Homo sapiens: one gene and its partners. The protein of the gene in region 1 interacts with the protein of each later gene in a biochemical or structural test. Each region holds a gene or a part of one and is shown in the gene's direction. Other genes may lie near its edges.

Region 1 (3,500 bases):
GTTTTCTTTTTCTGGGAATACATCTCTATTATAAACCTCTAAAGATGTCTTTGTCTTTTCCTCTTTTTTTTTTTTTTTTTTTTCGAGATGGAGTCTTGCTCTGTTGCCTAGGCTGGAGTGCAGTGGCACAATCTCGACTCACCACAACCTCCACCTCCCGGGTTCCAGCGATTCTCCTGCTTCAGCCTCCCAAGTAGCTGGGATTACAAGCGCACATCATCATGCCTAGCTAATTTTTGTATTTTTAGTAGAGACAGGTTTTGCCATGTTGGCCAGGCTGGTCTCGAACTCCCGACCTCAGGTGATCTGCCCACCTTGGCCTACCGAAGTGCTGGGATTACAGGTGTGAGCCACTGAGCCCGGCCTACTGCTAACTCCCATTTTTCAGATTCACTTTTTAGCTGTCTCTTCTTAGGTTTCCTAATTGTAAAAAAGAAACTTAGCTGCTATTCAGCTTTCTCTTCTGATTCCCTTAGCTTCCTATATTTATAGTTAGCTTCATTTACCTAGCCTTATTTTCTCTGTGTTCAGTTGGTCGTTCTTAATTATATTTTGCCATTTCCCTCTTTTCCAAACTGTTAGTCTATGTTTATCACCTCAAAAAACTGTTCAAAACATGCAGTGGAAAAAGTTTATCTGATCTTATTTTATTAGCCCATTTAATTCTGAATATCCCCTTTGCATTTCAACTAAGTGTACATGCTGGTATTTTAACTTTATATTCATCAGTATATTGCTTTGTTTATTTTGAGATGGAGTCTTGCTCTGTCGCCCAGGCTGGAGTGCAGTGGCAAGATTTTGGCCCACTGCAAGCTGCGCCTCCCCCAGGTTCACGCCATTCTCCTGCCTCAGCCTCCCGAGTAGCTGGGACTAGAGGCGCCCGCCACTGTGCCCGGCTAATTTTTTTGTATTTTTAGTAGAGACGCGGTTTCACCGTGTTAGCCAGGATGGTCTTTATCTCCTGACCTCGTGATCTGCCCACCTCGGCCTCTCAAAGTGCTGGGATTACAGGCATGAGCCACCGCTCCCGGCCATTGTTTGTTTTATACTTTGTTTTCTCAGTTTTCCTTTTTCTCTTTAGTGTTCTTAAAATTGACTGTTAAGATAATACCAGGTTGTTATTTATTCTTATGTATTAAGACTTTGTAACCCTCTCTACCTTCTTGTTTTATTATACTTTTGGCCTCTTAAAACATACAGATATATTTCTCTGTTCCTTCTTCTCTGTACCTTCCTCTTCTGTCCTACCTTTCAAGTTAGATGTCTTCTCTGACACAGAATCCCTAAAATTTTGAAATTATCTTTCTTTGATTTCATGAAATAAGCACAATAGTACTCTATCACTCTATTTTTGTCACTTCAAATTTTGTTCCAGACACCATTGAATGAAGGTCTTGCCAGGCTTTAAGTGATAGTGTGGAAGACGATAGAAAAGGAGAATATCTAAAAATTCACTTTGTGGAAGACGATAGAAAAGGAGAATATCTAAAAATTCACTTAATAAGACTCTACTTATCTGGAGGTTATTTATTATAGCTTTAAAAGCATATTGAATGTAGTAGAAAAACTAGAAAATAAAAAATGACATCTCCTTAATCACAACAGGTATGACAGAGTCTGGGGACTTCACTTTTAGGGCCATTATTATTCAGAGCCCATTTACTTATGTACATAATGAGCTGTTTTTGGTTCTTTGGTATCCCAGAAGGCGTGAGAAAGGTACGTTTACAGCATTGTGAAGTTATGACCTGTGGTGTTACAGTGAAGCAATAGAAAAATGGAAAGATGACTGAATAACTTAGAAAATAATCTGGGACAACTTACTTTGAGGCTAAGTGCCTTGTACATTTCATTTCCCTGTAGGAGGATTCACTCTGTTATAATATGGTATAATTACAAGAAATAGTAATAGTCCTAAGGCAGCTGTTCTCAGACTTTTTGGTTTGACTCAAAACAGAAATTAAAAAAAATTAATTTATTTGAAAATAAGCTATTGCATGTTAGTGTAACATTGTTTTAATAAAAATATAATTGTTTTCTAAAATAAATAGCAAAAATAGTGGCAATGTTTTATATTTTTGCAAGTCTCTTATGTTTGGCTTAATAGAAAACAGCTCGATTCTCATATCTGCTTCTTCACTCCATCTGTTACAGTATGTTCTTTTGGCTAAAGTATATGAAGAAAATCCAGCCTTATACAGGTATTTGGTTGGAAAAGGGAGGAAGATTTTCTTTCTTTTCTTTCTTTTTTTTTTTTTTTTTGAGATGGAGTTTGCTCTTGTTGCCCAGACTGGAGTGCAGTGGTGCAGTCTCGGCTCACCGCAGCCTCTGCCTCCCGGGTTTAAGCGATTCTCTTGCCTCAGCCTCCTGAGTAGCTGGGATTACAGGCATGCGCCACCATGTCCAGCTAATTTTGTATTTTTTGTAGAGACAGGGTTTCTCCACGTTGGTCAGGCTGGTCTTGAACTCCTGACCTCAGGTGATCTGCCCGCCTCGGCCTCCCAAAGTGCTGGGATTACAGGCGTGAGCCACCGCGCAAAGTGCTGGTCACAAGGTCAGGAGATCAAGACCATGGACAACACAGTGAAACCCTGTCTCTACTAAAATACAAAAAATTAGCTCGGTGTGGTCACAAACGCCTGTAATCCCAGCTACTCAGGAGGCTGAGGCAGGAGAATTGCCTGAACTCGGGAGGTGGAGGTTGCAGTGAGCCGAGATCGCGCCACTGCATTCCAGCCTGGCGACAGAGCAAGACTCCGTCTCAAAAAAAAAAAAAAAAAAAGACATAAACCTGGGAATATGTAGTGGTACTATTGCAGCTTGAAGGCATTGCCTTTGTTCTTGTAAAGGTGTTAGCTGTTGCAACCATTGCTTTTGCAACATCAGTGTAAAATGTAAATATAATGGAAAAGGGAAAAATGACATTTCAATATTATAAACACAGTTTTGACCTGGAAGGTTCCTTGAAAGTGTCTCAGGGACTTCCAGAGACTGTGGACTTCCAGGGCCTATGGACTGCACTTCAAGAACTTAGGTGGAAGTTGGGATTTATGGAACTTTCATTAATTAAATTTTTTTTCTTGTCTGTTCGTATTGGATTCTGGGAGAGTGTTGAAGCTTGATCTTTAAGCCCACTTACTTGATTTTCATTTGTTTTCAGTTATTTTGTTACTTGTTTTTGGAACAGAGTTTCTAAGAATTCTAGTTTTTCATAGGAGTTATTTTTGTTTTTATTTTTTTGAGACAGGATCTCACTGTGTTGCCCAGGCTGGAGTGCAGTGGCATACTCACGGCTCACTGCAGCCTCGGACTCCTGGGCTCAAGCTATCCTGTCACCTCACCTTCAGCCGAGACTATAGGCATGCACCACCATGCCCGGCTAATGTTTTATTTTTTTTTGTAGAGATGGGTTCTTGCTCTGTTGTTCAGGCTGGTCTTGAACTCCTGGCCTCAAGCAGTCCTCCCTCCTTGGTCTCCCAAAGTGCTGGGATTATGGCATG
Region 2 (3,500 bases), on another chromosome or scaffold:
TTTCCATTTTATGATGCCAAAAGGGCAATGCAGATCATTGAGATGTATGAACCTGATGAAGATTTGAAGAAAAAAGGTAATAAACATGAAAAAAGGACTTAAAAAAAAAAACAAGAAAAGATGCAACTTTTAAAGCCTTGGTTTATTTAAAGGTATCTGTAAATGCTTTGCAACTCCCTGAGCCATGGATTGATGACTATTTTTTTTTCCTGCTCTTAAGTTCGTATAAATTTTACCTTTCATCAGAATTAGTCAATCCTGACTGAAGTATACTGTTACATTTATTGTATTATTAAATACATTATAGTGATGTTTCCCCATGTACTTTCTTGTATTAGATTTTAGTATTGCATATTGCTTGAAATATTAAAACAACCAATACAGTCTCTACTTGCAATCCTTGAAAATAATTTTTGTCATATAAAAACTTATACCTTTTCTTTTTCTCCCTTTTGTTTTGCCAAGCCAAATAAATTTAATACGTGATTTGATGTGCAGTAACCCTCATTTGACCTCTGGTATGAAAGATAAATACAATTGATATGAAATTAAATAGTCAGGAATCGCCTTAGCTAATTGCTGGACCTTTGTCCCTTTCAAAGAAGCTTTGGAAACAAAGGGTTGTTCGCACAAATATTTGTCAAAGGAAAGGCATGGGGAGAAATTTTAAAATCAGTCCCACAGCAGTGAGAAATGCCTGCGGAACATGGGAGGGAGAGCTGGGGGTACCTGAGCTAGAGCCTTTGGCGTTATGTCTCAGTGGAGAATGTAAAGAGATGAAAGTTCAAGTTCCATAGGTCCCGTATGTCCGTGAATCTCAAGGTCTCAGTTTCCTCCTTTTTAAAATCTATTTTTTTCTTTGTATCTAATGCCAGTGAGTGTGGTTGAATGGTCTGTATGTTATCTGGACCCTCTTTTTAGGTATACCTGGCCCTCTACACTCCATGATTTCACCCCTGATATTTTTCCAAGCCCAATAGTTTTCCCTTTAGTTGTAGTTGTACAGTTTACACTTTCTGCTATGGCTGAAGATACCTATTTTAAGCAAGAATGCTTCATTCCTTCCCTCTCTGTCAATATTCTGAATATCATAATTTATTTCACATTGCTTATGATTACAGCAAAGGGAGGTACAGCTTGGTAGAAAATCTAACACTTCGCATTGGCAGGAGGTGATATGATTCTTGTCACTTCCCTGTGACCTTGAGCTAGGAACTGGCCTCCTGGGCCTCAGTTTCCCTGCTTGTAAGGTGGTGGGGCTCATGCAGTAATTTGGCTAGTATTTCCCTTCCCTACCTTCATTCTTTGAAGTTTGTAGAGGGCTGACCGGGTGCCAAGCACTGTGCCAGATGCTAGGAATTCAAAACAATAAGAAATGTCCCCAGCCTTGAAGGCAGTTGCGATCTGTTCAAGGAGAAAGACAAGTGATTCAACAATTCCTTGGCAGTGTGATAAATGTCATGATTGAGGTGTGTCCTTGTTTATTTCCAAATTCCTTCTAAGTTTTAAAGGTCTATGAAGTGACCATTGACACATCTAAAAAGGGTAGCTTGACCATTTCACAAGTGATGGAAATTTTAACGTCTGTCATTTTCAAGTGTGGGTGAGAATGGAGTACAAAGCCATTCTTATAAACTTCTGGTAAGACCCTACATTGGTACAACCATCTTGGGGAATATTTTGGCAATAGTTTATAAAGTGAAAAATATGCCTCTTATACAGCCCAGCATTTTCACTTCTAGGTATGTACCCTAGAGAATCTCTCATCTATTTCCCAAACTCTGGATACCAGAGCGGCACAGTTCTCAGATCTCTGCTCCACCTATATTCACTCTGTACCTGAGCTCATCCAAGCCAATGGCTTTACATTTCTTCTATTAAACTCTCCAGTCCTAACCTCCAGCTTACACTACAGACTTGTAGTAGAACTCTCCATCTGGATGTTGAATGGGCATTTCCAATGTATATATACAACATATTTCGATCCTTCCTACCCCTAGATATGTTCCTTTCAAAGCCTATAAAATAGTACCGTTATTTACCCAGTCAAAACCACTGGGCTCATGTTGGACTTGTTTCATTCTTTCACATCATGTCTGGTTCATTTGCAAAACCTGTAAGATCCAGCCTCAAAAGAAATCCTAAATAAATCACTTCTCACCATCTCCAACATTACTGACTATCCAAACCTTCATCATCCCTCTCCAGGCAATGCCTTCTCCTTCCTACTCAGTGCCCTACAATTTATGGTCCACACAGCAGCCAGAGTAAACCTTTTAAAACCAAATCTAATCATGTTATTCCACCCTTTGAAACCCTCCAAAGGCTTCCCAACACATTTAGAATAAAATCTAAAATACTTAGTGAGGACTAAAGCCCAAGTGATGTAGCCTTTGGCTCCATCTCCAATCTCACTTCAAGCTACCTTTTTCCTTGGTCACTTGCTCTGTCTTGCTGTCATTGAATGATGTTGGCACGCATACATCTGCATCAAGGTCTTTGCACTTGATGATCCTTCTGCCTGGACTGGTGTTTCCTGGGTGTGCACGTGGCTTGCTCCTCACACATGTACGTGACCTCAGAAGGGCTTTCACTGGCCCATATTTAACACAGCATCCTGCCATGCTTCATCACCTTCCTCCCTGCTTTCTCTGTCCTTCTAGTACCTCTTTGACATTATATTTATTTGTTTACTTATTTGTTTCTGTCACTCATAATATGAGAGTTTCATGAAGGCAGGGCTTACCTGTTTCTTCTATCACTGCATCTATCCTGGTGCCTCTAAAAGTACTTGCTCTTTAGAATGAATGAAGGTGCCCAAGGAAAGAGGTATACAAATTTCTACTTTCATTTATAATTAGAAATGACCTAACTATCCATCAACCAAATAATGGATAATAAATTATGATATATTCATATATGGACTTCTGTACCTTCAGTGAAAAATAAATGAACAAGATCTACCTACATAGCTGGTATATAAAGATAAAAATAGCAAGTTGCAAATGCACACAGTGGGATAGTTTTTACATAAAATTAAAAACAGCCCAAACTACCCGTTGTTTGGATAAATGCATATGTAGTAAGGTTGCAGAACCATTTTGGAGGTAAACACCAAAACTAGGATACTAGTTATCTATCTGGTATGGAATGGAATTGAGGTGGGGTATACAGGATGCTGCAGTGGCATCAGAAATTATGTATTCTTTTACATGTAAGTCAAATAATCAAAAATGTAAATCAAATAAGGCAAAATGTTGAGATCTGACCACACTGGTGTAGGCCCGTGGCTATTCATTATGCTATCATCTGAACACTTCTGTATTAGCTTGAAATCAGTTCATAACTTGCAAGTTCTTAAATAAAACAAAAACTTGAAGCTGTCGATGCATCAACCATTTATAAGTTGCATAAATACTGATTGTTGCTCCTGTAGTTACCACGTGGGCTCTACCCCATGTCAGAAAGGTGTGATCGAAATGAAGGGTGGCTTTTGGGGC
Region 3 (3,500 bases), on another chromosome or scaffold:
TGCCCAGTGATGTATTTATATAAAATGGCAAGCACTTGTTGGTGACTGGAACTTAGGAACAGTGGGGCTGGCTGCTTCCCTGGGGTCTGAACCTATTACTGGATAACTCGGGGCAAGAACCCAGTGGACAGTGGGGCCTCATGGGATGGGGAAAGGAGAGCCAGTGGCTTACGGACCTCGTAGAGGTGCCCCTTGGCCTTTCTGGGGGTCTCGTCCTATCTGCTGAAGAATGCCCGTCTTGTTCTACTGTAATGGAAACTGGACATGTCCATCAGTAAGGGAGTGATTAAAGAATGATATTTGGCTGCTTTGCAGTGGCAAAGTGAAATCCACAATGGTGTACTGAATGGGAGTATCCCCACAGTACAACACTATTCATGTAGTGGAGGGGTGGTTGTAGAAAATAAACATAGCATGGGCTGGGTGCAGTGGCTCACGTTTGTAATCCTAGCACTTTGGGAGGCCAAGGCAGGCGGATCACGAGGTCAAGAGTTCAAGACCATCCTGGCCAACATGGTGAAACCCCATCTATACTAAAAATACAAAATTAGCTGGGCATGGTGGCGCACGCCTGTAGTCCCAGCTCCTCAGGAGGCTGAGGCAGGAGAATCACATGCACCCGGGAGGCGGAGGTTGCAGTGAGCCGAGATCATGCCACTGCACTCCAGCCTGGCGACAGCAAGACTCCATTTCAAAATAAAAGAAAAATAAAATAAACATAGCATTGGCCCATTCATTTGTTTATTGTATTTTCAAGTCAGGGTCTTGCTCAGTTGTCCAGCCTGGAGTGTACTGGTGCTGTCCTCCCACGTCAGCCTCCCGAGTAGTTGAGACCACAGGCGTGAGCCACCATGCACAGCTAATTTATTTGCTTATTTGTGTAGAGATAGGGTCTCTCCATATTGCCCAGACTGGTCTTGAACTCCTGGCCACAAGTGACCCTCCTGCCTCGGCCTCCCAAAGTGCTGGGATTACAGACATGAGCCCATTTCGATGTTGTTTTAAACTCTGGCTGGGCAAGCATGCTTTAATCCCAGTGCTTTGGGAGAATCCCATGAGCCCAGTAGGTCGAGGCTGCAGTGAGCTATGATTGAGCCACTGCTCTACAGCCTGGGCAAGAGAGTGAGTCCCGAGTCTGTGTTTCCAAATACACAGCAAGATGCGGGGGCCAGGTGCTCACTCCTGTGATCCCAGCACTTTGGGAGGCTGAAGTGGGAGGACCTCTTCAGCCAGGACTTCGAGAGCAGCCTGGGCAACATGAGGAACCCCCGTCTCTACAAAAAATTAGCAGGACATGGTGGCGCGCCTGTACTCCCAGCTACTTGGGAAGCTGAGGTGGGAGGACTGCCTGAACCAAGGAGGTGGAGGCTGCAGTGAGCCAAGATCACAGCACTATGCTGCAGTCTGGGCGACCCCTGCCTGAAAGAAAGAAAGAGAGAGATGAAGAAAGATCTGGAACAATATAAGTCACACTTGAGGGGGGAATGGTGGAAGTGATGCGGCGTCCAGGTTATTTATCCTCATTTGAATTTTTTATAAGAAAAATGTGTTTGCCGGGTGCGGTGGCTCAAGCCTGTAATCCCAGCACTTTGGGAGGCCGAGGCGGGCGGATCACGAGGTCAGGAGATCGAGACCATCCTGGCTAACACCAGTAGTGAAACCCCATCTCTACTAAAAATACAAAAAATTAGCCGAGTGTGGTGGCGGGCACCTGTAGTCCCAGCTACTCAGGAGGCTGAGGCAGGAGAATGGCGTGAACCCGGGAGGCGGAGCTTGCAGTGAGCCGAGATGGTGCCACTGCACCCCCGCCTGGGCAACAGAGCGAGACTCCGCCTCAGGAAAAAAAAAAAAAGAAAGAAAAATGTGTTCACCTACTACCTACGTAACAAAATTACAGTTACAAGACCATTTTAAACATCACACACACACACACACACACACACACACACACACACACACACACACACGGTAGACGTGTATGGTCATGCACAGAGTGAGATTTGGGGTCAGCAGTACACAGCTGCAATACCCCCTGCACCACATCCTGTCTCTGTGACTCAGACAAATTGCTTACCCTGCCAGACTTTGGTCTTTATAGCTGGAGATCAGCCCTTCTCAACCAGGGGCAGTTCTCCCTCCCAGGAGACACCTGGCACTGTCTGGGGATGTGTGTGGTTGTCACAACTGGGGGATGCTCCTGGCGTGGAGTGGATGGAGGCCAGGGACGCTACTCAGCGCCCTGCAGTGCCCAGGTCGGCCCCACCCCAGAGAGTGACCTGGCCCCGATGTCACAGTGGAGAAAGGCGGCTGCAGAGAGAGCGATGCTCCTGTGAGGCGTCTTCCACCAGCTCCTGAGGCTGCAGCACAGCGCTCCGCCCGCCCTCATCTCCGGGGAGAGGCTCTTTGAATTTTCTCACTAAACAAACATTGATTGCGGCCCCAGGAGAAACGAAGACGGAAGGAGCTGTGCTGGGGAGCAGGGGTTTTAGGGTTGCGTTTGGTGCGTCTGTTTGGTTTTCGCCACCCTGCCTCTTTCGAGTCGTTGGTCTCTTTCTGGTTTTTGTTTTTTTGAGACAGGGTCTTGCTCTGTCACCCAGGCTGGAGTGCAGTGGTGTGATCTCGGCTCACTGCAACCTTGACCTCCCAGGTTCAAGGGATCCTCCCACCTCAGCCTTCTGAGTAGCTGGGACTACAGGCGTGCACCACCACGCCCGGCTGATTTTGGTATGGGGTCTCACTGTGTGGCTCGGGATGGTCTCAAACTCCTCAGCTCAAGCATTCTTTTTGCTTTGGCCTCCCAAAGTGGTAGGATTATAGGTGTGCGCCACCACGTGCGGCTTTTTTTTTTTTTTTTTTTAATTGAGGAGTCTTGCTCTCTCGCCCAGGCGAGAGAGAAGTGGCACGATCTCGACTCACAGCAACCTCTGCCTCCCAGGTTCAAGTGATCTTCCTGCCTCAGCCTCCCGAGTAGCTGAGATTACAGGCATCCACCACCACGCCCAGCTAATTTTTTTTATTTTTAGTGGAGATGGGGTTTTACCATATTGGCCAGGCTGGTCTCAAACTCCTGACCTCAAGTGATCCGCCTGCCTCAGCCTCCCAAAGTCCTGGCATTACAGGCGTGAGTCACCGCTCCCAGCCCATGTCCGGCCTCATTTTAAGTAATTCTTTTAAGGTAGATTGATAAAAACTGAGAATAGAAGCAGCTTCCACCTGGCCCTGGCTCACTGGAGCTCCCGTCCTGGCACCTCCTCCTGGGCTGTCTGAGCCCTGGCCATACCTGCCCTCTCACCCTGTGTGTCTGCGTCTTCAGCCTGGAGCTGGTGGATGGAGTCACGTGTATGCTTTAGAGGTCTCAAAGCGTGTTGGGTTTTCTAGAACTGCCTTCGGCCTTTCTCTCCAAGCCTAGCTGGGCAGAAGTGGCCAGAGAGCGGCAACCCGGGCACCCCTGAGTCCCAGGATTTCTCCCCCGGCTCCTCCCACCCATGTGAATGAAAGCC
Region 4 (3,500 bases), on another chromosome or scaffold:
TATTGTATGATAATTTAAAAGATATATATTACAAGTATTGTATATCTTGATATTATAATTAGCGGTTGGCTTCATTTACTACTAATTCACTATTCATAGTAAATATCATCCTTGACCATGCAAATACTAAATGCAATTTTGTATCATATAAATTTAATGCTATAGTGTATATTGATCAAAAATGTATAAGAAATGGATATTTTCTTTCTATAAGCGATAGCAGCCAGAGAAACACAGTAAGTAGCATTGTCTTATTTCTTAAGATTTAAAAGACCTATAATATCTTTAAGCCTACACAGCTCAACTTTGAGTTCCCAAATCCTAAGTGGTCCCTAATCAATATTGTAATGATATTTTTTGAACTATTTTCTACATCCAAAATAAATCTAATGAATTTTTGACAATAATGGTCATTAGACTACAAGTCTGCATAGGGTAAATACGATATCCCTTGCTTTGGGCTGCAGTTTTATCAGCTTATTAAATTAGTGCTGATTATCTCATGCTTACTGGAGGCATTTATTGATAGTATGTCTTTGAATGATAAACATAAAAATATATTTCTAATATTATTTGATACAAGAAGTTTGCTGAATAAAAATCTTTTAAAATATTCTCAAGAAAATTTATAAAATGCCTTTGGGGCAGTAAAATTGCAAAGGATCATTGCTTTTTTTTGTTCAAGTTATAATCTAATTATCAGAATGAATGACTCCATTAGACACTTCAACAACAACATAATTTAATATGCCATAGATTTTGGAGGCAGAATGCTATAATATTTGTATATTTTGGTTGAGGTATAGATACTTGACCTTCACTGTATTCATAGTTTTGTCTAGTTCATCATAATACAATGTGGACGTTTACATTTAATTTCTTTTTCTCAAAGATAACCTTTGGAGGCATCCCTTTCTCTGGCAAGCCCAGCTCCAGCAGTAGAAAGAATTTCAAAGGCTGCATGGAAAGCATCAACTACAATGGCGTCAACATTACTGATCTTGCCAGAAGGAAGAAATTAGAGCCCTCAAATGTGGTAAGGATTTTCACCCGCAAAATATTGGTCTATAAAATATCAAGTAACATTTTTGTTTTTTGGATTATTGAACAACAACAAAATCATGACATTTTTCATCATATTTGTGTTTGGGCAAAATGATGTAAAACAAACATTAGAGTTATCAGAATTAGTATAGATACTTGCTATTCTTTGAGAATAGCTAATGGGACTAGCTTGAAGTAGGTGGTTGGTTTTATTCCCACGGAGCACAGAATGTTAGACTCAATATTTCTGGATGACTCGTGGCACGTGCTTCATCCCAGCAGTTAGCAGCCCTTAAACCGGCAGCATCGTGTTTTCAAATATCTCATCACATGTGCTCTAAGTTACTTGCTTATGGTTTAATTTAATATTTTTAAAGTTTTTAAATCAGGGACTTTATTATATTTACTCCTGTGCTTCCAAAGATGATTTGTTTGAATATGTAAATAAATACACTTTTTAGCAAATCTCTAACCAGACTAAATATTACACAGTTAAATAAAGCTTGATTTCCACTGCATAGCCAAAGCTGTGCCACAGAAGTTCACAGTGATTTTTTTCTGCCTTTTGTGTGAGTTGGTGCCAGGTTTCATTAGATTTTGGAAGGAGAGCAAAAGTCAAAGAAAGCCCCAGCACACATGCTTCCAAACGACACTACTCCACATCCCTAAAAGACACTTAGTTTGCAATTTTAGTATGAGAGTTCCCTATGGCTCTGCAAGACCAGGAGCTGCTTTAGCCCAGAGAGGCTATTTGGGAGAGCTTAGAATTCCAGAGACCCATACAATAAGAAGATATTATGCACTATAAGTACAATAATGTCATGAGTGTTTGCACTGTGCTCCAAAAGAGCTCTGATGGTCTCGTTGCCTCAAATTTGAGCCCAGGGTTTCATAAAATGATTTGACAAATGGAAATCCCTGAATGAATAAACAGTTCAGGTTGAATATGGAAGGTTTAAAACAATAACTTCATGCAAATGATTATTTAATAAATAATTTTCTTAAAGTAATCATAAATTTATACTAGAAATTAAAACTTGAACTTTGGTTAAATTTTCTCATAAAGTATATTGACTATGGAAAAATAATAATAGCTCCATTTATAGGCAACAGGTATTGTGCTAGGCAAGTCGTATTTTATATTTAGGATGATCTGAGAACAATACTGCAAGAAGGATACAAACATTTTGTAGATGAAAACATTGCGATTTAACATGGAAAAAATAAGTTATTTTATGAGAAAAATAACTTTTATTTTATGAGTAGGAGATAAAAAGATAGATGTATAGCCTGGTATAGTGGGTTGCTGCTGTAATCCCAACACTGTGGGAGGCCAAGGCAGGAGGATCACTTGAGTCCAGGAGTTTGAGACCAGCCTGGGCAACATAGTGAGACCATGTCTCTACAACAAGTTAAGAAAATTAAAATTAAAAAAATAAATCAAATTGAATTAAAAAATTAGCTGGGCATAATGGTGCATGCATGTAGTCCTAGCTGCTTGAGAGGCTGAGGTAGGAGGATCACTTGAGCCCACAAGTTTGAGGCTGCAGTGAGCCATGATTGAACTACTGCATTCCAGCCTGGGCAACAGACTGAGACTCTGTCCCCCCAAAAATAAAAGAATAAAAAAAGATTATGGATTCACAATATGTGAGTTTGATTATGCTCTATAATTACATTTTATTTTAACAAATAATTGCAGTGAGAAAACATAGAATAAACTTTTGAATCAAAATATACATACATACAGAAAATCTTAGATGGGATAGAGACAAATAGGACATTTTGCAAGCAACCCTGCAAAGACAAGTGTTTATATAAGAAATGTACTTTCAAAGATGTTGGGTGCTGGTATTTCAGTGAAATTGACTGAGCACTCATTCTACCTCCTCTTCCCCCACATACTCATTCCCTCATTATGCATTGACTCCAAAGTCAGCACCGTTACTCTGGAAGGATCTTTAATTTTGCTAGGGAGACAATCCCCTCAAAAGAGGTATGTGGTCAGTTATAAAATCTCAATTATTATGCATAGGCAGTTCTTTTTATCAGTAAAAGCGAGCATTTAAAAATAATCATCTGTGATGGTACAGAGCAAATTTAATTTGAATATTAATTCAGAGAGACTGCCTGCCTTAGATTTAATGGTTATTGTGCTAAAATGGAAGAAATCAGCATCAGGTATATATATATATACACATATATATATGTGTATATATATGTGTGTATATATATGTATATATGTGTATATATACACACACATATATATACCATATACATATATATACCATATACATATACATGTACCATATACATATATATGTACCATATACATATACATATACCATACACATGTATACCATATACATATACATATACCATACACATGTATACCATATACATATACCATATACATATATATGGTGTTGTTAAAAATATATAGAGAAAAAGAGAGA

Evidence for each region. The genes of interacting proteins can lie anywhere in the genome.
Region 2: the proteins of ERBIN (region 1) and PLCB4 interact in a test that uses a peptide from one of them, tested with the Homo sapiens proteins (one large-scale study listed by IntAct).
Region 3: the proteins of ERBIN (region 1) and MAP2K2 interact in a test that uses a peptide from one of them, tested with the Homo sapiens proteins (one large-scale study listed by IntAct).
Region 4: the proteins of ERBIN (region 1) and CNTNAP2 interact in a test that uses a peptide from one of them, tested with the Homo sapiens proteins (one large-scale study listed by IntAct).

The regions. Positions count from the first base shown.
Region 1 is NC_000005.10:65,929,575-65,933,074, forward strand, and holds part of ERBIN (erbin), read left to right. Parts: intron 1-3,500. UniProt on the Homo sapiens protein: Acts as an adapter for the receptor ERBB2, in epithelia. By binding the unphosphorylated 'Tyr-1248' of receptor ERBB2, it may contribute to stabilize this unphosphorylated state.
Region 2 is NC_000020.11:9,380,087-9,383,586, forward strand, and holds part of PLCB4 (1-phosphatidylinositol 4,5-bisphosphate phosphodiesterase beta-4), read left to right. Parts: coding exon 1-76; intron 77-3,500. UniProt on the Homo sapiens protein: Activated phosphatidylinositol-specific phospholipase C enzymes catalyze the production of the second messenger molecules diacylglycerol (DAG) and inositol 1,4,5-trisphosphate (IP3) involved in G-protein coupled receptor signaling pathways.
Region 3 is NC_000019.10:4,103,623-4,107,122, reverse strand, and holds part of MAP2K2 (dual specificity mitogen-activated protein kinase kinase 2), read left to right. Parts: intron 1-3,500. UniProt on the Homo sapiens protein: Catalyzes the concomitant phosphorylation of a threonine and a tyrosine residue in a Thr-Glu-Tyr sequence located in MAP kinases. Activates the ERK1 and ERK2 MAP kinases.
Region 4 is NC_000007.14:147,127,801-147,131,300, forward strand, and holds part of CNTNAP2 (contactin-associated protein-like 2 precursor), read left to right. Parts: intron 1-892; coding exon 893-1,036; intron 1,037-3,500. UniProt on the Homo sapiens protein: Required for gap junction formation. Required, with CNTNAP1, for radial and longitudinal organization of myelinated axons.